3 separate regions of the Homo sapiens genome follow, and regions 2 and 3 are each linked to region 1. The links come from fine-mapping of genetic effects on plasma protein levels. A gene starts in region 1. Each other region holds a variant in brackets. All regions are shown on one strand. Distances are from middle to middle.

Region 1 (8,179 bases):
GCAGCAGCTGGCAGGGACTGGCAAGGCAAGGACAGGCCCTCCCTTTCTCACAGCAGCACCTCCTGTTCAGCCAGGCAGGAGGGTAGTAGGAGCCTTCTAGGACCCTAAGGAACCTTCCAGGTTGCAGGCTTAGCCTTCCTGGGGCCAGTAGATGAGGACTTTCAAAGCAGTGGCCAGGTTGGGCTGGTTTTTGCCCAAAGCTGTCATGGCCTCAGGTCCCATGGAGGTGCAGAGCAGATGCCCTTGGCCCCAGGGTGTATGACAGAAGCTTGACCTGCTGGGCTTCCTGGGGCAGGGGGTCTTGGCTCTGGAGCCACCAATAGCCTTTCCTTGGTGGAAAACCCCAGGGCCTCAGGAGACCAAGGTCTCCAGGTTTGATCCTGGAAGTACCTTTCTCTGGGGCTGTAACTACTCCTGCTTCCAAATCTCATGTCAACAGCCCCTCACATTTCTGCCCACCTCTCTCAGACCTAGTCCTAATCCTGGGGTTCTGAGCACCAAACTGTGCCTACCGAGAGTGAGCCCCATGATGCCTTTGGGGCCTGGCTCATACCCTGCTGGGTCATTGTCAAGGCTGGGTCTCCCCTTGATCCTTAGAAAGAATGAGACTCAGGAGCCAACATGACGGCCAAAGCCCCGAATGATCCTTCAGCCAGCCAGAAGAGGGCCTTCAGGGAGGGCCATGGAAATGAAGGGACCAGAGAGCTGCCAAATGCCAGGGACCCTGTGGCGGCTCAGAGTGAGACCCAGCTGGCGACTCAGAGTCCCAGCTAAGAGCCCGTGGTCTTTGCAAGCCGAGGTAGCCAGCCCCAAGCATACCTGGTCCAGCCATGCCATCCTCTCCCACTTCATCTTCTTTCTAACAGCTAAAGACCATACCACTCCAACCCAGCCCCAGGTAGGCCTGGCCTAGCAAAGCGGCCCAGACAGTCCACCATGGCCACCACCCTCCTGCCTTTGTGACGTCACAGCCTGGTTGGGTGTGGCTGCGCATGGACCCTTCCAGGCTCCATGAGGTTCCTGTGTATCAACAGCTGCAAAGGCAAAGGGATTGGCCTCCTGGGCAGAAAGGGGCCAAAAGGGAGGGCCCTTTGGAGGAGCGTGGCTCTGGTGAGGGGTGGAGGTGAGACCCACACTTATGCTCTGATGCCTTGCAACTGATTTCCTCCAGATACAAACAGGGCAGCTGAATGGGGAGATGGCCTCCCCCATCAGAGGCAGTTCCCAGCCAGCTTCCTTGGATGGCCACACAGGAATCACTCCACACACCATCCCTGAGAAGCAGAACCACAGGGAAACCTCTTGTCCCTCTGGAAACTCAGTTACAATCAGTTCAGCACTTGAAGGAAGGATCTCGAAACATTACAGCCCGAAGAACAAGAGGGTGAAACTGTGGAGGCCTCAGCATCTTCTACCCAGAGTGTGCCCAAGCTATACCCTGGGGCAGCCACCAGCATCAAGAGCTTCAGGCCAGTAGGGAGCTAGGGGACCTCTTGGTCCCATTTCCTTGATAACATCAGAAATCTGAAGAACAACTCTCCAGCAAGGCACGGGCTTCAACTGAAGCCCTCTTCCCAAGTCATACTAAAACAAGAACTGACCCCAGCTGCGGGTGCTTCTCTCTGCCCGCACATCCCTCTTCCAGCCTGCTCCATATGCAGCCCCACACAGTGGGGGTTCCTGTTGGGATTGTGTGTCTGGGGCAAGTGACCTTACCACCCCAAGCCTCCATTTCCTCAGAAGTCAAACAGGGATGGGGATGCTGACTTTCCGGGGTAAGCGTGACTCTCCGCCCTCTCTCCAGCCCCCTGGCTCTGGAGTGGAAATCTGGGCTCTTCTCGAGCTCAGTCAATACCAGCCATAGATATAACAGGGCACTGGGGAAAAGATGGGGCAAGGAGAGGTCATTTGACCCATGACCTCTGACCCTCCCCCACCTGCCACTGGCACAGCTCCTGTGGGAATCCATTTCCCTTGTTCTTTGGTGTTGGGTGGATTTAGAGAAAGGAGTCCTGATGGCCTCTCAGAATCCAAGTCCTGAAACAAGAATGGGGACACACACAGAGGGGCTCCAGATCCACTCCCTGCTCACTATCCTCCCAGACGCCCTCCTGAGGCCCTCCAGTACCAAAGAGGGCAAGAGGCCACCCCAGTCCCCTCCCATCACAGACCTTTCTGGCAGCCTAGAAAGGCTAACCCAACTCTGCCCTATGAAACTGCTTCCCTGAGCATCATTTTCAGAGGAGCAACACCTCTGTGTGGCTATAAAGAGCCTACGTGATTGTGACCATCCCTGCCTCCCACTGGCTTTCTACAGACAGACACATCCTTGGAGCAGCACACTGGATGCAGCTCACCCATTCCCAGAGACCCAGGCTGGGTACCAGGGGCCCCTTCTTCCAACCCTTGGCCCACCCCTGGCAATCTCTAGGTCAGGCTTCTGAGCACCAAGACTGGCTGCTCAGCTCCCACCTTCACCAGCACCCTACTACCCACATCCACCCCCTACACACATACACATACAGCCCCAGCAATGCACTTCCAAGTCTGAGTTTCCCTAACAGTCTCACTCTGAACCCTTCTCCCTGCATCCTTGGGAATGCTGGAAGCCTGTGGCCTGCAGTGGGGGAGAGGCACAGTTGGGTCTGTCCTGTTCCTCCTGCCCTCCCTGCTGACCCCCGCCCCTTGGCTGTTTATCTTGTCATCTCTGGCCGGGTTGAAGAGGGTAAGGGGGTGAACAGCAGAGCTGAGATATGGGTCAAGCTTGTCTCCTGGGCCAGGAGTCAGAGACATCTCCTGGGCTATCCATTTCCCTCAAACTGTCAGCTGCGAGAGCGCAAGCAGAAGCTCCATTAAGCCGAGAGGGCTGGTGGGCTTTCCAAAGAGCAGGACTGCAATTCCTCCAGGCTTTGCAGCCCCATGGCCCTGGGCTGAAGCAAGGGGAGGTGCTCCCAGAGCAGCACCAAAGGCAGGTCCGGCCCCCTTAAGTCCGTCGAAGGGGTAAAGAGCCACCCAAAATGCCTTCCTCCAGACCTTGGCCAGGACCTCAGCACAAACCCTTCTCAGCTGCCTACCCATTGCTGAGGGTCCCCAAGGGCTGGAAGCCTTGGGGGAAAAGAGGTGAGAATTATCCTCTGAGCAATTCCAGTATGGTCCACACCCTTCTCCAGGGTGGTAGGTTAGGAAGGGGTCACCTGGCCGAGGTCAACGAAAGAAAAGAGGAGCAGACTCTCCAGTCCCCAGCCCTCGATCTGTCCTCTCCTTTGCGTCTGCTGCCATCCCCACCAAAGAAAAATAGCAAGGAGAAAAGAGCAGGCCACCACTGGTCTCCCTCGGAGGGGGCAGAACCAAGCAAAAGCCAGCCAGAGTTGAATGTTCCAAATGAACCGATCCGCACGATCACACAAGAAACCCCTCTCCTCAAAACACACGCCCTCTCCTCTCCCTGCGCCATCCTGACTCGGAATAGTTCCGAGCAGTTATCAAAGCCCAAACTGGGAAGGGATCTGTAGGCGCCCAGATGCAGATGAGGGTGGCAAAGGGGTGTCTCGGAAATGCCCAAAATGGGGCTGGAGAGGGCGGGCTGCAGGAGGGGAAGGGAAGAGGTAGGCGTCCATGACGGCCTCCACACGTCCAAAGTCTCCCCGCGAGCAGCCAGCTCGCAACTTGTTTACTTGTCAGCATGTTTTGCTGTTTCCAAATGGAAATAGTTAAACACCTCGGCTGGATCGCGAGCAGTCCCTATCTGTCACCTTCCCTGCCGGCTAAGCGCTGCCGCCGCTGCCACCGCCGCTGCCGCCTCTGCCAAAGAATCGAACCTCGTCTACTTTATTCCACTTGAGCGTGGCCAAACTGTTGCTATTTAGTGGGGAGCAAAAAAAAACAATTTGCACCATCGAAACGAGCCAGCAACTGGTTGGGAGGCGGGCGGTAGCTGGGCCCCGCGTGCCCTCGGCGGCCGGGGTCCTCTCCGGGGAGAGGCACACACACGCATAGCCGGATCGCGCCTCGCCAGGGCCGGAGTCACCTGGAATGCGCAGCCGGAGAGCATCTCCCGAGCCAGAGCGAGCCTGACGCGCGCCCAGCGGGCGGCGGGCAGCGGCGAGCTGGGGCGGGCGGAGGGCCGGCTCCCGGCCGCGGGTGGGCAGGAGGGAGACGCAGAGCGCGGGGGAGGCAGGCTGGGGAGCGGCCGCCTGACTTACATGGAAGTGATATTCCTTGAGATGTCCGTGATGTTGATACTGGCGTTCCCATTGCTGTTCCCTGAATCCTGCCCTTCCAGGAGGGGGAAGAGGTTCCCATCGTCCGGCCGCCGGCAATTGATCTCAGTCTTGCTGCAGACACAATTTGCAGGGCAAGCCAGCACGGAGCCCACATAGTCCAGCCAGACGCTTCCCAGCAAGAAAATCCGCCAGAAACTACACTTGGCTGGGCAAAGAGAGACATCCATCTCCGATCGCTGCTTCTAAAAAAGAGGAGGAGGAGAGGAGAGGGGGGTGGGGTGGGGGGAGTGGGGAGAGCAGGGGGGGAAGGAAACAAAGACGGCGAGGGAGGGGGGAAGGGGGAGGGGGGGCCTCTGCCTTTGAAACGCCGAGCGATCAGATGCAAAATCCTTCAGCGTCTGAAACCATCGCGGACGCCGCCGCCGCCGCCGCCGCCGCCGGGTGGGAGCCGCGAGGAGCGCCTAGTGGCGCGGTCTGCCGGGCATGGTGGCCGGCTCGGCGATCGCTGACTCGCCGGGTCCGGGGGCTCTGGAAGCGAGGCGCGCTCTCCGACTCCGAGACTTTGCAGGGTTGCAACAGACGGTGGGGAGGCAAAAAAAAAAAAGGAAAAGGAAAAAATGGTGCTAAAGTCACCAAGTCCCACCTACTGGGCAGAATTAAAACGGACACACCACGCACCTGCAAAACACACACACTCACTCTCACACATACACACACCCGGAGCCCGAGGAAAGGAAGAGAAGGAAGATGCAGTAGGAGCTGCAGCAGCCGCCGCGAATGGCTCGCCGCGCGGCTGCAGAAATGTACAAGTGCTCCGAGCCTTACGAAACGCACGGGTTATCGGAGCGTCTTCCTCGGCTCCCTCCCTCCCTTCCTCCCTCCCTCCTCCCCTCCCTCGTCGCGGCCTCCTCCCCCCGCCCCCCGCCCGGGCTGGGAGCGGCAGGAGAGCGGAATCTCCCCCTCCCTCCCCTCCCCACACCCGTCTCTCTCCCCGCCTGTCCTCTCCCTCCTCCCCACCCACCCACCCACCCACTCGCCGGCTCGCGGCTGTAGCCGGCACCGCCACCCGCAGCCTCGCGGCAGCCCGCCCGCTCCACGCCTCGCAGCGCGGCGCCCGCTAGCCGCAGCCCGGGGGAAACCGAGACCGAAGGGAAAAAGTTGCATTTGAGATTGCGAGGGTCGGGGCTGGGGAGGGAGAGTTGGCGAGCTGGCTGCACGACACGGAAAGGCGCTCTCCTTTCCACTTTTTGGCCCTCGCGCTACCCGGTTTTGCTGCAATCCGGACCGCGGTAGGAAGTGAAATGAACGTGGCGGAGGTGATTGGGGAGTGCTCCCAAGCCTTGGGTGGGGGGCGCTCCCAAGCCTGGGTGGGTGGGGGGCGCAGGCTCACGGACGGCGACGGGGGGTGCCGGAGCGCACAGACACCCCAGAGAAGCACCCAGAGCCGGGGACCGGGACCGCAGACGCGCAGTCCTTGGTCTGAATGACACTCATTTCCGTAATCTAGAGTCTGGGGCTCTGGTCTTGGCTGGGAGGGGACTGCGGGACATGGCACGCTAGGTGCCCCCCGTGCCCGCTGCGCTTTCTTGGAGGTGGGTTTTGCATTCGGCCTTGAGCAGGCATGGATCGGGGAAGGAAGAAACAGGGGTCGAAAGGGCTGCGCTGGAGAGCCGAGGTGGCCCCGGGCGAGCTGTGCGTGCAAGAGAAATGGCCGGGGGAAATTGAGATGCAAGGGGCATATTTTGGCAAGCGCCACGCCAGCACCGTCAGAGGCCGGCTTCTCGGGCTCAGCTCTCGGGTGAGCTGAGCTGGCTGCCGGGTGAGGGGGCGGGCGGGCTGCTTTCTCCGGATTCGGGGGCGCAGAACCTCCTCCTTCCCTCCCACACAAGCACCCCTTCCTGGTAGGGACGCAAAGCAGGTGCAGCTTTCGACGAGAGCTCAGATCTCATCCGGGAAAGAAGTGTGTGTGGGGGGGGCCCCGCTTTTGCGCTGGTAGGGATTTTTTTCTTAATAAAACATAAAGATGCCAAGTGTGAGCTGTTTGCTGAAAAAAAAAAAAACGAGCATTCGCTGTGGGAAAGGAGAAGAAAGGGTTAGGGGAGTCCGAGCAGGCAGACACACTACAGCATTCACACGCAGAAGAAAGCAGGGTTCTCCTTCCCGAGCTTGGAGGAGGGCAGGCGAGGAAGCAAAATACATTGAATTCAATTCAACTGCATCCAGTATCTGAAAGGAGTCTCCCCCGCCCCCCTGTGGATTCCGATGCAGGTCATGCAACTTGCAGGCAAGATGGGGGAAGGGGTATGCCGGTGTCACCGCCTGCCCCAGGCGCAACCACAAACAGGCCGGTCGCCTTCGGGTGGCACTGTCGCTTGGAGTAAAAACTTGGACGAAAAAAATGGAAGAAAAGAACATGCCTATACAAGGCAGTTTTCCCGACTTCCCGTCACGTTCCACCTTCCCTTGGCCCCAGGGAGATTTTTACCCCCGTCGCCATTATGGCCTTGTCTCCAGACTGGCATTTTGCCCTCCCACCAGCAGGCGGGGACAGAGTGTGAAGACCTCCTTGGACTCTCAAACCACTTGCTACTGGCCCTAGGCCAATCCTGGCTGTCCTTAGGCCACTGGGAATTTCCCTGTCACTTCAAGTGCCATTCTGGGATTGGCTTTAGAATATCTGAGAGTCAGGAAACTGAGGTGTAGTCAGATCCTAACACTTGGCCTCTCTTGGGAGGTGGCAGGTGGCAGCAGAGAAACACAGCCTCTCTCAGACCACTCCTGGGCAGGGAACGCCAAGTGGATTCAGCCCAGCATCAGTGCTCCAGCCTGGAACTGAAATGGTTGTGTCCAAAAGATGCCCAGCCCACTTTTTTGAGAGAGAGAGAGAGAGAGAAAGAAAGAGAGAGAGAGAGGATTTTTAACATGTCAAGCAGAGAAGAAGAGACATCCATAAGTTAGAACAACAAAAACAACAACAACAAAAAACCTTTAAAAACCCCTCTGGATTTGGTAAAAATGCAGATTGTGGAGCAAGGGGCCCTGATGGGCAAGAAGTCTTTCATCCTGACAGTAAAATGGGATTAAGATGGGGTGCTACGTTTATGCTCACACTCTGGGCCTGAGCAGGAAGCGACAGCTGAAAAAGAGGGAAGCCCTTTCAAAAGCAGGTGACGCATGGACACATAGAGGGGACAATGCACATGAGGGTCTACCAGAGGGTAGAAGGTGGGAGGAGGGAGAGGATCAGGAAAAATAACTCATGGATACCAGGCTTAATACCTGGGTGATGAAATAATCTGTACGACAAACCCCATGACACATGTCTACCTGTATAACAAAGCTGCACATCCTACACACGTACCCCTGAACTTAAAGGTTTAAAAAAAAAAAGCAGGTGATAGACTAGAGTGGGGAAGAGCAGAATTTCATTTCTAACCACAGGGAAATGACAAGCTTTCTGGGACTCCGCTTTCCCATCTGTAAAATGACCACGTTAAGACCAGATCCTCAAAACCCAAAGTGTGGCCCTCTGTCCAGTAGCATCCATATCACCTGGAAGCTTGCAAGAAGTGCAGCATCTGAGGCCCCATCACAGACCTCCCAAACCAGAATGTCCATCAGAACAAGCTCCCAGGTGATTCATAAGCACATCGCAGCCCCATAGTCATCCCTCCCAGCTTGAAGATTCTCTGATTCTACATGGATCTGGGCCAAAGGGACTGTTGAGGGAGAAAAAAAAAAAAAAGGTGGGGAATGATGGGGATGGGTCCTCATAATGTTATTCAGTTACAGTGAAGTTAGGGTGAAATAAACTGGGTATCTCAGAGGCAGGGGCCTTGTCAGAAAAAGACATTTGAAGTTTCATTCTAAGCTTAAGAAGATGAGAATGACCTGCTCATGCACTGCTCACAGAAATCATAGTGCAGGGTCAATAATAGTGCACACTCAGAGTTTGC
Region 2 (8,179 bases), 330 kb before region 1:
AATTGCTAGGGTTTGAAAGTGTCCTCCAAAGATCCTCTGTTGAAAACTTAACCCCAATGCAACAGTGTTGAGAGGTGAGACCTCTAACAGGTGATTAATCATGAGAGCTCTGCTCTCATGAATGGATTAATGTTGTTATCATGAGAGTGGGTTTGTTATCACAAGAGCGGGTTTACTATAAAAGCAAGTTTGGCCCATTCTTGGTCTTTTGCCATGTGATGTCTTCTGCCATGTTATGACACAGCAAGAAGGCCCTCACCAGATGAGGCCCCTCGATCTTGAACTGCCTAGCCTCCAGAACCATAAGAAATAAATCTCTTTCTTTAATAAATTACCCATTCTGTGGTATTCTGTTGTAGCAACACAGAACAGACTAAGACAATAATTAATATTTATTATTTATCATCCTAAGAGCTTTATATTTCTTAACTCTTAGTCCTTACAGAAAATGCGTGTGATAGGGGATGTTGGCTCCATTTTACAGTTGAAGACACAGAAAGGGCAAGTAACTTGCCGAAGGTCATACAGTCAGGAATTATAGGAGCAGAGATCAAACCAAGGCAGTGTGGGTCCAAGAGCTTACAACTTTTCATCTGCTATGGGGACACCAAGACATCCATAAAATCAAATATTCTTCCAGTAAGGTTGGCTTGTTCTAAATGATTCCCACTTCCTAAGGATTACTGTTACTGTCTTTCTAGGAGTTTCTGGGAACCCTGACCCAGAATCTCCAGCTTAGAATCCAGTGCCTTACTACCTGCTGCCAGACCTGTTTATGACCCACACCTGTGTGTCATAAACACACAGGATTTTAGCATACTTACCCCATCATGTCCTAGACACTCTGTTCTGTCTCCTACCAGAACCTGAAGTGGGTCATCCTTGACTCAGACTATCACTCGTTTGCCTCTTCTGAACATTCTCCCAGGATAATGCACTGCTTGATTAGATAAGACTTGCTCCTGCTGCCTGCAGCTGCATTCCACATCATCTCCAAAGGCTCACCTCCCCTAAGTGAGCATCTGGTTATCTGTCTAGGTTTCTCTTGGTCTGGAATGACCTATTTCCTAATTCTAAATTCCCTTTCTGACTTCACTCATTCATACTTTTATTAGGTGCCTAACAAGTGCCAGGTACTGTCACACAGGACAGCACACAGGCACACAGGACAGCAGGATGAACAGAAAGGAACACTCCTGGAGCTCTACATTAGTAGGATCCCATTCCCCCCTCATTCCATTCCTCCCTGATCTCAGTGTATTGACTCCTCTCCCCAAATCAAAACATCTGAAAACATCTGTATTCTGAAATCTCAACCTTCTCCCCTTCAGGACATTCAAAACTTTAATACTAGATTTGACTATCAATCTCTTAGTGTTCTCTGATGTTCTTAGAAAGATATAATGGTACCCAAAGCCTACCCTTGTCAAAGCCAGTGTAAAGGTAATCTTGGAAGCATTGAGTCAGTGATTCACAGAAGGAAAAGGTGTTTGTCATTGTGAATGTCTTAAGAAGAGAGAACAAATCGCTCTGGTGTTCTGGTGTGGGAACATTTGTTTTCTCTCTCTAAATGTGTAACAGGAAATTAGGCAGTTCACCTTTGTAAATCGTCTGTATACCACTTATGTATGAGCCAGATGGTGCCTCTTCGTTTTAACAAATTAAAAATGAAAAAGAAAGACTATAAGGAGGAGTTTATCTCCATCTCTCCCCATGCCCTTATATGCACATTCTGGAATCTGCACTGGGCAGGCAAGCACACGTGTATGCACACACACACACACACACACACACACAGGCCTGGATTATCTGCACTTAGTGGTGTTAGGCATAAGAAGCCAACAAACTCTTAGGCCCAAATGAGTTCAGTAATCAGTGATAGCAGAGAGGTACAAACCTGTCCGGGGGTATCAGCTCATAGAGAGAATCCTTCACAGTATTCTCGCGATCTGACAAATCAGAGCATTCCTCCAAGGCCTTAGCCGATGTATACTGAACAAAAAAGTTTTACACAAATCACCCAAATGTGGACTTAGCTCTAGGATTCATGAGCAGTATTTCCATACATGTTGAAACCTTAAGAAAGACATTTTCCTGAGGTGGTCAATGTAAAGATTCTACTCCTTTGGAGCAGCTGCATGATCCAGTTTATCTTCTAGTGGTCACGGAGTCCCTCTCTCTGTCCCAGGAATTGCATATGGAAATAAAATTATCCACAGAGTTGTCTTGGCTTGGATGTGAGGGGGACTAGTAAGATAATATAAACAGGAGTTTATCCAGTAAGTATTGTACTACAAGCTCTTTATACAAATTAACTTGCTTAACATCAACACAACTCTGTTGAGTGAATATTTTTGTTCTCACTTTAACAATAGAAAAATTGAACAGAGGTTAGAGGAAAATGCATTCAGGTTACATGGTTGCTAATGGTGGTTGCACATTAGGATGTGAACACAGGTAAGATTAGGCCTAAATCCAAGAATTCCATTGTCATTCCAATGTCTTCCAATATGGATAATAAGACTTCAGGGTTCATTTTGATGTGACTTCAGGCAAATCTACTTCTGCCTTTCATTTTACAGAAAAGTAGGGAATGAGGAGTGGTGTATACATTAGGACACTGTGAGTAAGTGAACATGAAGATATGCCACAAGCTGGTCTTTAAATGTCTCATCAGTAGAATACACAGATTTCCAATGGTGTGCTGTGTATTTACTGTAAGAGTTATCCTTTTTTGTTCAAACTTCCTTGGGACCAAAAACATACATTTCGAGCTAGCTGGCCTTGGCTAACATCGCCCTTAGAACTCATGAAGAAGGAATTGAGGTTACCTGTAGTGTGTACATTTTCCCACCTCACTCTCCCTTCCTTAAATTCTAATCTACCCTGGCACCTACAGAAATTAGATAGATGTATTCCTTGTAGCCCTTTTAGGCATAAAGAGCAACAGTTCACAGTTATTAAGGCAAGGACAAAGAAATATCAATTGGGGATGTGATCTTTTTATTTTTTGTTTTTCCTCTTTTAAACTAGTTTCAATAAATATTAACAGCACATCTAGAAGCAAGTTTGAAGGGCCAGTTAGCACATTCTGGTCAGACATAGTTTCCTGAGACTCCAGTGAAGTCAGTAGTTATCAGCTTGGCATAATCAAACATCTGCCTTTCACAGAGAAAAACAATGAGCCATCCCTTGTTTTCATCAACACCTACATAGATCTGAGCACAGTCAGACAGACCAGCAAACCCCATTAAACAAAGTGGAAAGGCAATTAAATGATGCCAGCTCCAGCCCCACTCTAAGAAATCTATGACCCATCCCCCTCTTAGTAACCACACCAATGCCTCTCTTGGAAATGAATAAAAAATATGGTCTAGACACTAAAGAAAGACTCCTCTTTGATATTTTCTGGCAGGTCTGCCCTGGCCATCGGTCTATGACTACTGCCACATCATGTCTCCTTTTCCATACCTGGGAATACTGGATAGGACAGGTGGCTAGTGAGGCTACCCAGCTTGCTGTGGACACTGTATGCTTTGTCTTATATTCTCTCACAACGGTACATCATCTGCCATTCTTTGGTTGCACAACAAACAAGTCATTTTCTAACAACCAAGGTCATTTCTCAAACATTCCATTTTTCTCCAACCTATTGCTAAAATGAAGTATCTTGACTGATCTGTTTTAACGTCTGAGTGATCTCATTTAGGCCATCAGGAACATCAAGATAGAACTGACCTGCACACACCTCAAATTCCCAGCCTCTGGTCCACTATGCTCAGGTCAACAGGACAATCATATCTATTTGACTCACGGTATGATCACTCATTTCTCCAAAGATGAGACAATTGGCTGCCATGATCCTGGCAATACACTGAATGTTTGTGTACCCCCCAAATTCATATGTTGAAACAGCCCCAAGGTAATGGTGTTAGGACGTGAGGCCTTTGGGAAGTTACTAGGTTATGAGGGCAATGCATTCATATGGAAGAGATGCCAGAGAGATCTGTTAACCCTTCTGCCATATGGAGAAGACACAGCAAGCAGATGGCCATCTATAAATGAGGAAGCAGACCTTTACCAGACAATTAATTTGTTTGCACCTTGATCTTGGAATTCCCATCCTCCAGAACCATGAGAAATAAACTTCAGTTTTTTGTAACCTATCCCATCTGCGGTATTTGTTATAACAGCTGAAAAGGAATATGACATCCCTTGACCTCCAAAACATTGTCCCACACTCTCCTTATAATGTCTATCCAAACTCCTCTTTCCTTTGATGTCCCAAAAATAGATTTTTTGTTTTTTTGTTTTTTTGGTTTTTTTTGACAGAGTCTCGCTCTGTCGCCCAGGCTGGAGTGCAGTGGTGTGATCTTGGCTCACTGCAATCTCCACCTCCCAGGTTCAAGAAATTCTCCTGCTTCAACCTCCCGAGTAGCTGGGACTACAGGCACATGCCACCACACCCAGCTAATTTTTGTATTTTTTAGTACAGACAGGGTTTCAGCATGTTGGCTAGGCTGATCTTGAACTCCTGACCTCGTGATCCATCCACCTCAGCCTCCCAAAGTGCTGGGATTACAGGCATGAGCCACCACTCCCAGCCTTGGATCTTCTGTATTTTT[T/C]AGCAATCTGCCCTCACTCAGTTTGCAGAAGTTATCTCTGTGTCTCAGGTTGCACTCATACTTCCCCTTGCTGAGATAAGTGACACTCATGGCCATTCATCCTTTCCCTGGAAATAATAACACTATCAGAATCAGTCAATAATCCATGGAAAAAAAGATTCCCAAAGACTTAGGGAAAAAAAAAGATTCTAGGAGCAAAATAAGACTCTTGTTAATGTAAAGCAGATGACTATATGAAGGTAAAACTGAGCAGGATGGATCTTCTCACAATCAGAAAGCTTTTCTAAGATCTAACCTGTCCTCTCTCCAAAGTTGGCAACAGATAACATGCTTCCTTTCCTCATCTGTTCCAGCCCATTTGGATAATGCTCAGCAATATATTAGCCATCTTTGTTACTTTACTTAGGTTTCCTCTTCTCATCAAGATCTACTTTTGGAAACAAGATAATTCTTACATAATCACAAGATAATTTCAGAGAATAAAATGTGTCATGGGTGAGGCTAGATCTGGGACTGGGTAGGGAGACATTAAATGTAGTATCAAGTTGGGTGTGTCTGTGTGTGTGTTTGGGCACATACATATACATGTATGAGTATGTTTACATGAAGAATGAGTATTGAAGCACGTAAGAACACAATGCATATGTTATTGCAATGTACAGATTACAGTTCAGTTAAATGTCCAAGAAGAAAGAAGGAGTGGGCAATTGAGAACATAATAAACAGGTATGTCAAGATGCAAGAGAGGCCAAAAGATAACTGTTGAGTGCATGTCTGGGCATGGGTGTGTATATGTGTGTGCCAGAGTGACAGGGTTAATGGACAATGAAAAAGACATGTAAGCAAGGCGCTAGCTCTGTGGCTGAGTCCTGCAGCTGGGAAAGTCACTTTACCCTGTAATAATCCGTGCTGTAGACATCTCTGGACATGCCGAAGTCCCCAATCTTCACTAGCAGATTCGCTCCAACCAGGCAGTTCCTGGTGGCCAGGTCTCGGTGCACAAAGTGCTGGGAGGCCAGGTACACCATACCCGAGGCGATCTGACTGGCAATGTGGAGCATTTGGGAGAGCCCCAGCTCACCCTTGGCCTGGCGTGGCTGTCCATCCACAAGGATCATTGCATCTGGCCCATGGGCCCTGCAAGAGCATGGGGAGAAGAGAGGGGGCAGAGAGAAATCAGGAGATCAAGGAGAAAGGCCTTCCTGGGTCCCTGCCCTCTGGAATGCCCCACAGAAATAAATAAAATTTCCCTTTCCATCCTGCCTATGGCTTATTTTTATCTGCCCCAAATTAGATTATGTACGTGTGGGTAAGGGTGAAACTCCACAACCAGATTCTGGCTAAGATGAGAGCAGACATACTCAAATGGAAGAGGGAATAAACCTACTCTTTTTAATATTTCACTGCTTCCTAGGATTTTCACAGGTGCTAGATGTCTATTATAGAATAATTAGCAAAACAACAAATAACTCTGCCATAGCCCTTACTATATGCTCTGATTGTTTTAAATATTGTAATTCACTCAATTTTCCCACCCCAATTTTGAAATAAAGAAATTGAGGCACAAAATGATGAGATTGCTCAGCCAAAGTCCCAGAGGTCCAGAATGGCCATATGGGAAATCAGGAAGTAGGATCTGAAACCAGACATGTGACTGTAAAAAGTGAGCTTCTAAAAGGAACATTGGGAGTGCTTGTTCCAAGATTCCCTGGCCCTGCCCCCTAGGATTCTGATTGGCTAGGTGAGCTTGCTCATTTGCATCTCCCACTAGCTCCCAGGGCTGATGCTGGCAGTCCACGCTCAGTGGCCCTGGGACACTCCTAACCACTCCACCACACCGCTTAGCACTGGGTAACTTATGGCCATAGCAGTGCACAGTGGAGAGAGCCTCTGACCTTGAAGCATGGGTCTGGGGTACCCCCAGAACCCATTCCATCCCAAATCAAGCCCGGATTTGTTATTCTAACACCTTGCCTGATCATATCAGTCACTTTTAGCATTCACTCTTTTCTCTAGAAAGCCCAGTGAGCCGTAACCACACCCAGGGCCCTTATTTATGAAGTTGTGGACCAAGGAGCCCTGGTGTACAGCAAGGCCTCTGCCTGCTTTACTGCTTCTCTGATTTCCTCTGAAAAGCACCATTAAGTAGGAGCACATCCCTTTTACTATCTCCGGTGGGCTCTGCCTACCTCACTCCTCAGAAGGAGGAAGGCTGCATCAGCTCACAAGGAAGAGGGGTCAGCAGAGAAGCCCTCCCTTCTGTCTGCCTGGAGAGTGCACTCCAGCCTGCCTCTCAACACCACCAATATGGAGATGTGAGAGCAGGCAGGGTTGGCCTGCGGGTTATGGAGGCTGTGTTTGTGAGAACAGCCGACAGGATGCCTCCCAGGAAGGGTTGGTGCGGCCTGTTGCTAAGAGCTTCTGGTCTCAGAGAATTCTTTAGAAGGTCACCCTCGACTGATAGAGCCTAGGAAGACAGATTAATGGAACCTACTGGGAATCTGGTCAGTAGTGGAGGCTAAAGTTCAGATTTTGCTGCAAAATTGCCCCAGGAAGACTGTCGAGCCTTGATTTAGAGAGACTCCCCCATGCTGTCTTCAGGAAGGGATCCCATAGAGACACAGAGGTCTTCAGAGTGTCAGCAAGTCCTTGTAGAACTGTACTCACAGGCATGCATTCCCCATGCTGTCTGCCATGGAGAAGGCAAGGCACTGGCACTGCCCCTCACCTTATACACTTCTTTCTGTTTCTTCTGTACTCCTTTTTCTTTTCTTCTTACTTTCTGCTTCTTCCACTCCTTATCTTTACTCTAGGCTCTCACTCTTTATTTCCCTCCTACTATCTTCTTTCTCTTCCCTTTTATCATGTATGACAGTAGTGCAGAGGCACCTAGGAGCTTTCTTTAACCCTGCTGGTGGCTCTTGGGGCTGGAGATACTGCTGAATGTAAGGATAGGATGTGGTGAAAAGTAGGGCATGCCCTTTGGGCCCCAGGGGAACAAAAGGACAAAGTGAGGGCTATCCCGAATATTGAGAAAGAGTGTTGCCTAGATTAGAAGCTACCATGGTTCACAATTCTCACAAAATAGTAATAGTAATAACTTCAATAGCAGCTACCATTGGCTGATCACTGAACTACTTGCAAAACTTGTCTAAGCATTATACATATAGTCATTTAATACTCATAGCAACAACCCCGTGAAGCAGTTATTAATAGTCGTGTTTTCTAGGAGAGAAAATTAAGATTTAATAACTTGCTCCAATTTGCAACTAAGATGTGACAAATCCAAGATATGAACCCAAATCTGTCTTATGCTAAAGACAAAGTTCTCCAGGAAAGGAATCCATTTCATTGTGAATCCAGGTTTAGAAGGCTTAGAACATCCCACAGATGCTTTCATTTCCTTTAGGGCCATCTTTATAGAAACCTGACTCATAAGCAGAGCTCCAGAGAGTCCTCCATTCCATTGCCTGGTACTAACTCATTTCTTTGCCCCTCAAAACCACGACACCCTATTGAATGTCCCACTTCAAGAGGATGCTTAGCAGTTTTTG
Region 3 (8,179 bases), 280 kb before region 1:
TTAGCATTTGGGGCTGGATCATTCTTTCTTGTGGGGAGCTGTCAGAAGCACCCACCCTCAGTTGTCACAACCAAAAATGTCTCCACACATGTCCCTTAGGGGACAAGATCACCCCCAATTGAAAACCAGTGCAGGAGACAATAAAGCTCTTGATGACAGGAAATACAACTGACTCACTTAGTAGCAGAGTGTGTGGCACAGAGTGGATGCCCCAAATATGTTTGAAGAATGAGTCAATTAAGCAACATTTGCTCATGATCTCAGAGGTATTCCTTGAAAGACCCTATTCCGGTGGGTTTGTGAAATAATCCCACAGAAGGGCAGTTCTTGCTCCCCGGGGTATAAATGATGAACAGGAAGAGGCATGAACACTGTCACCCACTTAGGACCTCATGATGAGACAGGTCCCTCTGCTGGGTGGTGTGCTGGGTGCTATACAGAGTTAACCTAAGGAAGCTCCCTAGACATTAAAGCATTTCATAGTCCAATCTTCCTATACCGAAGCTGCCCAGCTTAGGAGAAAGAGGAAGGAGGTGCCAGAGTGTCTAAACTTAAATAGGCACTCCCATAGGTCCTGGCTAGAGCACTGCGAGCCTCACATGTTCCTTAAACAAGTCCAAATGTGATGCACAATGAGAGCTACAGTGCAATGAAGGGATGCCCAACCAGCAAGGTGCTGCTTATAAATTCTCTCATCCCATGCCATTCATGCCTCCTGCTCTCACCAATGGGATTTTGTAAATCCTGTTCGTGCTGAGTCTCTTCAATCAACCAATAATGTTTACTGTGACATCAAGCCCATGTTCTTCTCCAGAGCAAGCAAACAGCCCCCACTCTGTTTTCTTATAATAGGTGAAGTCTTTCTTGTATATTTTCCACATTCCTAGCAACTGAACATGCATGGTTGTAGCCAGTTTGCTTTAAGTCAACACCCATGGGGCAGTCAGTGATGTCTGAGTAAAGAAATGGAATTCTGATGGACTTCTACACTTGGATCAAAGTGCATGACTGGTAGATTTCCCTGGCTCCAAAGGGACTCAGGTTTGATTTCAGAATCTGCTTGTGCCTGTTTTCCTAGAACAGCAGGTCTCAAAATGGTCCAAAGGTCCCTGGTGGGCTCAAGACCCTTTCAGGAGATTCATGTGTCAAAACTATTTTCCCAGCAATAGTAAGATAGTGTATGCCTTTTTTACTCTCGTGTCTCGCAGGTATTATTCATGAAGTTGTCCAGTGGTTTCCAGACATGTGATGATGTCATCATCCTGACAGCTACATGGAATGTGTGTGTATACTTGAGCTTTTAAATTATACTCAGTTTTAATTTCAAATGCAGTGAATATGATGGATATAACCCACAGAAACAAACATCATTTGGGGTTTCTATGACTTTTAAGTGAAAAGAAGTCCCAAGACCAAAAACTTTGAGAACCACTGCCCTAGAGCAATGGTGCTAGCCTAACTTCTACATCACAGCAAGTAGGGAGTGGAGGCAAAACACTTCAAAGACTTCTGGGAGGTAGAGTAAGTTAGTGAGGGTAAAAATATGTACACGTTCAGAGTTTTATAACAGGAGTGTCACTGTGACATTTTAACTGCAAAATGTTCTCCAGGTTCTTCAAGGTAGAAAAAAAAACAGGTCTAGGAAAGAAACGAAAGTATTGATATCTTCAACAAAAGCAACACCTCCTAAATACAATATTGCTTGTTTGGAGCTCTACTGATGATCTAATTTGCAGTTTGACTAACCTCACCTCACCACCCCTAAACTGACCAAAAGTTGACTCCATGTGTTTGCATCTCCCAGAGTATTGTCAAGGGTATGCAAAAACAATTAGGAGAGTGACTAAGAGCGTGTTTGTACCATGTGTAGAGATGGAAGAGAGAGCATGTGAAGCTTGTGATTCTAACTGCAATTTGGGGATTATTGGTGAATTTCAATTACCCATGCTATAGAATCAGGATATGATTATCAACATGAAGCATTCATTTTATCACTGACCAAAATAAACAGATGAAAGAACTCATTCCCCCCAGCTTTACCACCAATCCTTCAATCAGTTTTTATTTAACCTTTTAACATTTCTTTACTTCTTTTATCTCCTCACATAACATAGATGCTATCCCCCCACCCCCTGCCAGGTACCAAGGTATTTTGAACACAATGGAATTATCCTTCCTATGCCCAGCATACTCAGAAGAGGCATAGGACAATTGCCTTCATCTTTCAGAGGGAACGAATGAGAGATGAAATTCACCTTCCCAGATTGACATGGCCAATTGGTGCCCAGGCCCAAACGGAGATGCTTCCCACTCATATCAGAGCAGGGGCCTTCCGAATCCCTGCTTGAAGAGGCACAGGCTGGAAACACCCACAGGGGTGGAAAGAGTTACTGACGCGTGTGCCAGAGTCCCTTTAAGGGAAAGAGGTAACTCCTGCTTTGTGCAAATATCATTTCCAGAAATTGCGTCCCCCAACTCATATATTGAAGGACATGAATTTTCTTGATTAAAATAATGATAATAGCAATAATAAGAAGAATAGATAGATAGATAGCTCAAGTAGAGCTCAACAGCATGTGACTAATGAGAAAAGTTTTACCAGTTCAAGGCTGGGGCAGCTAAATAATGGCCATAAACTATCATGTGAAGCCAGGCTACTTCTCTACAGCCTGCTTACATCTTCTGTGCTATAAATAATTCAGAGTTTTCTTTTTTCTTAAATATCACAAAACCAAGTCAGAATCTTTATGTGAAGGATTCTGCTGTGTCCCTCTCTCCCTCCTCCTCTCCCTCCCTAGCCAGCCCAGGCAACTCCCTGGAGAATGACCCCTCAAGCTTTAACATTTATACTTTGACATTTCAGACTATTTGTTAGGCAGAGCTGCCTTCTTGAGATCAATTTCAGAAAATCTTGCCGAGAACTCCCGCTTGGCCTTGTCCAGCTGTGACAGAGAGGGTCTATTAACCCCCAAGCATCTGCTTCCACCCTCATCCAGAGAAATCCACTGATCCTCACCCAAAGGGGCAGCCATCTCTCTCACTCAGTTTGCCTTATACACAACATATTCAGAGAGAGAGAAGGACCAGGAACCAAGAGATGTCCTCCACTAAGAGACAACAGTGACTCATGGGGACATGGTATTTGGGGCATCTGTCCAGGCAGGGTCTTTTACATGAGGATCAGCAAACTCTACTAGCTACTCAGAGACAAATATGGAACAAGGAAAGGTAACTTACCCCATGTCATTTTGCTAGTGGTAGAGTTGAGACTGGGATCCGGGTCTTCATTGCTGTATGCTACCACTAGATGATGTCACCTCCACCAGCCTGGGCGGATGGCCAGGTTTAATGCTGAGGTCTCAAGCTCTTATGTGAAATGACTTACCATTTTCTTCTGAGATATCACAGCGAAGGTTTCCTGATCTTCACAAGAGTGTCTATCCATCAGCAACCAGAATTTTTTCTGACTCTACGTAGAAGGCAGAAGTGAGGGCTGAGCCTAGAGCTGGGTAGCGTGCTGGGTGTGGTGGTTTCTTGATATAAGAAGTGGGTGGTTGACGAACACATCCTGCTTGATTCTTCTTTAAAAGCTTCTGATCACACTATAACCCAGTGTTTTCTAACATGTGTGTGCTGAGTCTATTAATAGATATTAAATGAAGAATGTTTTGTGTTTAATTAGAATTGGAAAGAGGTAGAATAAGGTTTGTTTACAGCAGGACTTCTTGGAGCCTTTGATATCCTAATGCAAACTGTGAAACTCTAAGAGCTGGCCATATTGTGCAACATTCTCCAAAGTTCTCTGATGGATCCTTGGCATATCATGAGACTAAGGAGAAACATTGCTGCAATCAATAAAAAGGGGAGCACTTGATCCTTACAACATCATTTGTCTAGTAACTGGAGGAAGAGAAAAAGATTTTTCTGCAAGTTGGGGATTTCAAATTAAGGGAGAACCATATTGCAGGCCCTGAAGCTCTGCCCAGAAAACAGACCAATTTATGCAGGATAACAGTTGGTCAAGTGATTGACCCAATAAAATTATTAAGATGGCCAAAGACACCATCCTGAAAATGCACAGTGGGGTTATTCTGGTCTTCTTAACGACTAGGTTGGCCATTTGGTATCAGAGGTACTGTGTAGCAATCTCCTGTTATGGTAGCAAGAAATGCCAAATTGACAGCCATAAAGATTGAACGATTCTGTGAGTCATTTAAACATGAACTTAGAATTTAAATTCTCCCAAGAAGGACATTCTCAGAATATGTTCTATATTGGTGGTGCCTCCCCTGCTGCCCACTGACAGTGGGAGGAAACAGACTCAAGTTCTCCCTGGCCAGCTCTATATCTGGCTCCCTCTGAAGCAAAAGGCCTCAGTGAGGAGCTATGGTCGCCGGTTGGGGGCAACCAGAGAGCATCACAGATCCTGGCTGTGCCCTCCTGGCCAGGGTGAGCTGTCAGGAACTAGCAGTCTTGACAGAAGTTGTTTGAGATTTACTCTCATGTTCTCTGCCATGTGAATTTTCTTTCAGAATTAATAGCAAGAGCATCCAGAGATTCTGACAGAATATAATTAATAGGCTAGATTTAGTTAGTATCTAGCCAGTACTCTGGAATGTTCCTTCTGTCACCCTTGCCTTGACTTTGGCAGCAAGAGGGCAGAGCTTGGAGACTGCTTGTCTGACCCAGTGCTGAGAAAGACTGGAAATTAGCCTTTGTAG[G/C]TGCAGGGGTCCCCTGCGTCACAGAGGCTAAACCCTTTCAGCTTAAAACTAGAGGACCCTCCATGTCATGAGCTCCCGACACGCTCAAGAACCTAGCTGTGAGAGGTAAATATTTCCCTAGGCCTGTGCAGCTGCCAAGGACCATGTCACAGGCTCTGTAGACCTGCCCCATCCCTAGAAGAGCACATGTGCTCCCCACAGCTCCACACCCTCTCTTTTTAAGAGAAGTGCGTTTTTGAAGGTCAGGATTTCATGACTTTTGACCAAAGGCTATTGCAAGCCTTGCAGAGCAAAGAATACCACAATGTGATTTTTAAACGACATTACGAGGTCCCAAACAGACTGAAGGTAGTGTGAGCTTTGGAGTGAGAAAGTAAGTGGTCTATCAGAACTCTGTAACAGAGGTATCACCAGGCCATATTAGACAGCAGTGAAGTCACTTTCCCCTTTGCCAAGGCTAAGTCCTTGTCCTTCTCACTGCAGAATGAACTTGAGGGCAAGGGAGGGGAGAATGTGTCTTTTTCAGGGAAATAGGCCACTTGCTCCAGTGAGGTCTCCAAAGGCAGAGCTAGGCTTCATTGAGCTGCCATGATAACAGCACACAGGTGGCAGAAACTGAGGCAAAGACAGCCATGAAGACAAGCTGGTCATCACTGCAATCCACAAAGGCTTCCAGCATTACTTACCAAAGCCAGGTTTGGTAGTGTTTTCTGAGGTGACATGATGTTCTGTCCCTCAAACTTGGAAGAAGACAAAAGTCAGGGACTGCCATACTGGAACGATGCCTTTGGGCAGCCTCACTCCTTGCTCTGCAAACCCTCTCCATAGCTGAGCAGGGGATTTTGACCACCCCTCCAAACTCAGACATTACTTGACATTACTCTTAGGGTGTGAAGTGAGAACTGCTCGAGGGTTTTGGCTCTCAGAAAAGCCAAGCTCCATTCTTCTTGACTTACGCCAAAGGCCCCAGTCCCCACCCATAGGTAAATCAAAGCCTTAAATCATCTATTTAAGAGAAGCTTTGAGAGGATCCTTTTGGTAGAGGGTCATGAGAAAATACCATGATCCTGAGAAAGCCAGGTGCCCATCTGGTCCCATATGGAAGGCTCATGTATCTTGGTTTGAAAGTCCCACCAGAGCCCTCAGCTAAGATTTCTCTACAGCTCAGTTCTCTGGGTAATTTGCAACCCTGCCGTTTTCCTCTACCTCAGAGTTCCAAGTTCCTTCCCAGATACAACCCACACAGACCTGGGCTGGAGGCCTTTGATACCAAATCTGAGCCATCAGTACCTTCTACGTCCCTGTGGGATCTGTGCTCCTCAGAAGTGCTCCTGTCTTTCTTGTTCCCTTCTCTCAAAGCAGAGCATGCCCCAGTCAAAGGTTTGCCTCTGATATCTTCCTTGTCCCCCTCGTTTTTGTCATTCCTCGCCATCCTGGCCCAGGAGCATACAGAACCTTTGAGCAATGCATTCACACCCACCCAGAAGTCAAGCATAATGAGGAGAGAAGATCTAGCTCTCTCAGGCACAAACACCCAGATATTTTGTGATAGAAGGAAAATGTGCCAAAATGAAAAGGGGCAAAAACACAGAGGGGTGTTAGACCTTATCACCCGTGCAGAAATCTCTTCCCTTATCAAGATTTAATTTCAAGGGAAACTGGGGTCACTCTATGCAAGTTTTATCCACTGAGTAGGAGAAACTGGAACAAAAGTCCTACCCAAGAGGGCCTCAGAATCCTGATGGAATTTCAGAACCACCCAAAAAAGCAGACAAGGGACTTATCTCTTGCCAGCATATCTCCTTCAACTCACTTTTGGGTTCAAGTAGGGTTGAAGAAGGAGTCTTATTTAGCTCTGGAAATATACTGTCAGATCTAGGCTGAGGTTTTCTTGGGAGGTGGGAAGTATAGGGGGTGGTAACAGTAGGATTTCTAAAGGCAAAATGCAGAACCAGAGCTATCCAAGGAATCTGGAGGCTGCAAGCAGTTTCGCCCACATCAGCCAGCATTAAAGATTGGCAATGTGGTGGGTGGGGGAGAGCTGGGAGAGAGGAGGAGGAGAGCTCCAGGCCCGTGCTGGACAGTCTAGATGGAAGCCAGACTCCCCATTGTTCTCCACCTTCCTCCCGTCTCTGCTGTCATGCTTAAGAGTTTTCCCTGGGCCCTTCACAGAGAAGACTCCAAGCAGCCAGCATCGCCCCTCTCCCCCTCCCTGTCTCTCCCTCCCTGCCACCTTCATTTTGCTCTTGCTTTCAGAGTCATGCTGGCAGCAATGTGCGAGTCTAGCCAGAGCACAGGAGTCAGTAAACCCTGAAGGAACAAAGGCTCCGGCTCTTTGCCTAATCCATGTCTGGCTCCGTGCAGAAAGCTACACAACAATGAAGTCGTCCTGCATTGATCTGCCCGCTCCTGAGCTTTCCCGCGGCATCCAACCCTCCCTTGCTGCCTCACCATTGTATCTGAGATGCTTGATCCTTTGCTCATGCCTGGTCTTGACCTGAGGGAACTGGGACGAGCCAGGGGATGTGTCACAGCCCAGTGCTGTGCTGCGGTCACACCTGTGGCTGGGGAGGTGGAGGTGAGGATGTGGCTGCTGGGAGCTTGGCTGCAGAAAGGGATTCCCGCACAAAAGAAGAGACAGAGGTGGCTAGAGGTCAGATTCTTGACTTCCAAATTGAGCCTGATTTGTGTTTGGTCTTTTTAGGGTGAGCATTGCATGGCTGAGCTTGGACATATCAGGAGGTCTTTGAGGTGCGTTGAAGAAAGGTTAAGTGACAGTGGGTAGTCAGACAAGGCCCTTTCTTCTACTACCTTCCTGTCTGAAGCTGCTCACCCTTGCCCAGACCTGGGCAGCCTAACCTGATATCCTAAGGATCAGGTTGGTCTCATCCTTTCTTCTACCACCTTCCTATCTGAAGCTTCTCACCCTTGCCCAGACCTGGGCAGCCTAACTGCTATCCTAAGGATCAGGTTGGTCTCATCCAACTGTATGATGAGTCCTCCCCAATATCAAAAAGGCCATCATTGCTTGGGAATCTCACCAACTGTAAGACATGTGATTAATCTCAGATCTAAGCCCAACCATGCTTTCATACACCCCCAAGTCACTAAATGCTACAATGAGAGGAAAGAACGTTGCAGATGTTCTTTTCCAGTCTTTAAAATCACCCTGTCCCAAAAGTTCCAGAAGGAAGTCAGGGATGGTGCTCATCCCTGAAGACCCCTGAAAGACTTCTCTGTCTTAGGAGTGGAGTGGGGTTGGAGGGGGGAGCACCTAGGTGGTGTTTCACAATCATAGCCTTCCAGGAGCAGAAGATGTGCTACTTTAGGGGGCTGCAGAGTGGCCAAAAGCATTTTGAGGTGTCAGGCAGTCCCCCTGTCAGTCCTGGTTCTGCCAGTTTCAAGCTGTGGAAACCTGAGCTAGTTATTCAATCTTTCTGAGCTTCAGCTTCCTTGTG

Direction of the effects. Positions count from the first base shown, and alleles are read on the strand shown. Strength reflects both the effect of a copy and how common the allele is.
With allele C in place of T in region 2, the plasma level of the protein whose gene starts at base 5,036 in region 1 is lower (moderate association).
With allele C in place of G in region 3, the plasma level of the protein whose gene starts at base 5,036 in region 1 is higher (moderate association).

Evidence for each region. A credible set is the group of variants that fine-mapping cannot tell apart. PIP is the chance, under the fine-mapping model, that this variant and not a neighbour inherited with it causes the effect. Protein levels are from antibody-based Olink assays in UK Biobank. Linkage for the fine-mapping came from a reference panel and not from the study's own genotypes, which makes the PIPs less certain.
Region 2: its variant is the best candidate, but not a certain one, in a credible set for the plasma level of the NTRK3 protein (UK Biobank, PIP 0.88).
Region 3: its variant is the best candidate, but not a certain one, in a credible set for the plasma level of the NTRK3 protein (UK Biobank, PIP 0.73).

The regions. Positions count from the first base shown.
Region 1 is chr15:88,251,704-88,259,882 of GRCh38, forward strand. It overlaps NTRK3 (neurotrophic receptor tyrosine kinase 3), which reads right to left and starts at 5,036. Exons shown (of 20, transcript NM_001012338.3): 1 at 4,941-5,036; 2 at 4,581-4,783; 3 at 4,203-4,465. The coding sequence starts at 4,450. It overlaps NTRK3-AS1 (NTRK3 antisense RNA 1), which reads left to right and starts at 1,027. Exons shown (of 4, transcript NR_038229.1): 1 at 1,027-1,775. RefSeq lists enhancers at 3,180-3,717, 3,718-4,254, 6,595-6,889.
Region 2 is chr15:87,923,673-87,931,851 of GRCh38, forward strand. NTRK3 (neurotrophic receptor tyrosine kinase 3) reads right to left here. Exons shown (of 20, transcript NM_001012338.3): 17 at 5,519-5,762. Among named protein-coding and RNA genes, the nearest start is that of MIR11181, 19 kb to the right of the region's middle. The variant T/C (reference allele first, on the strand shown) is at 4,626.
Region 3 is chr15:87,966,903-87,975,081 of GRCh38, forward strand. All of the region lies in intron 14 of NTRK3 (neurotrophic receptor tyrosine kinase 3), which reads right to left. Among named protein-coding and RNA genes, the nearest start is that of MIR11181, 25 kb to the left of the region's middle. The variant G/C (reference allele first, on the strand shown) is at 4,722.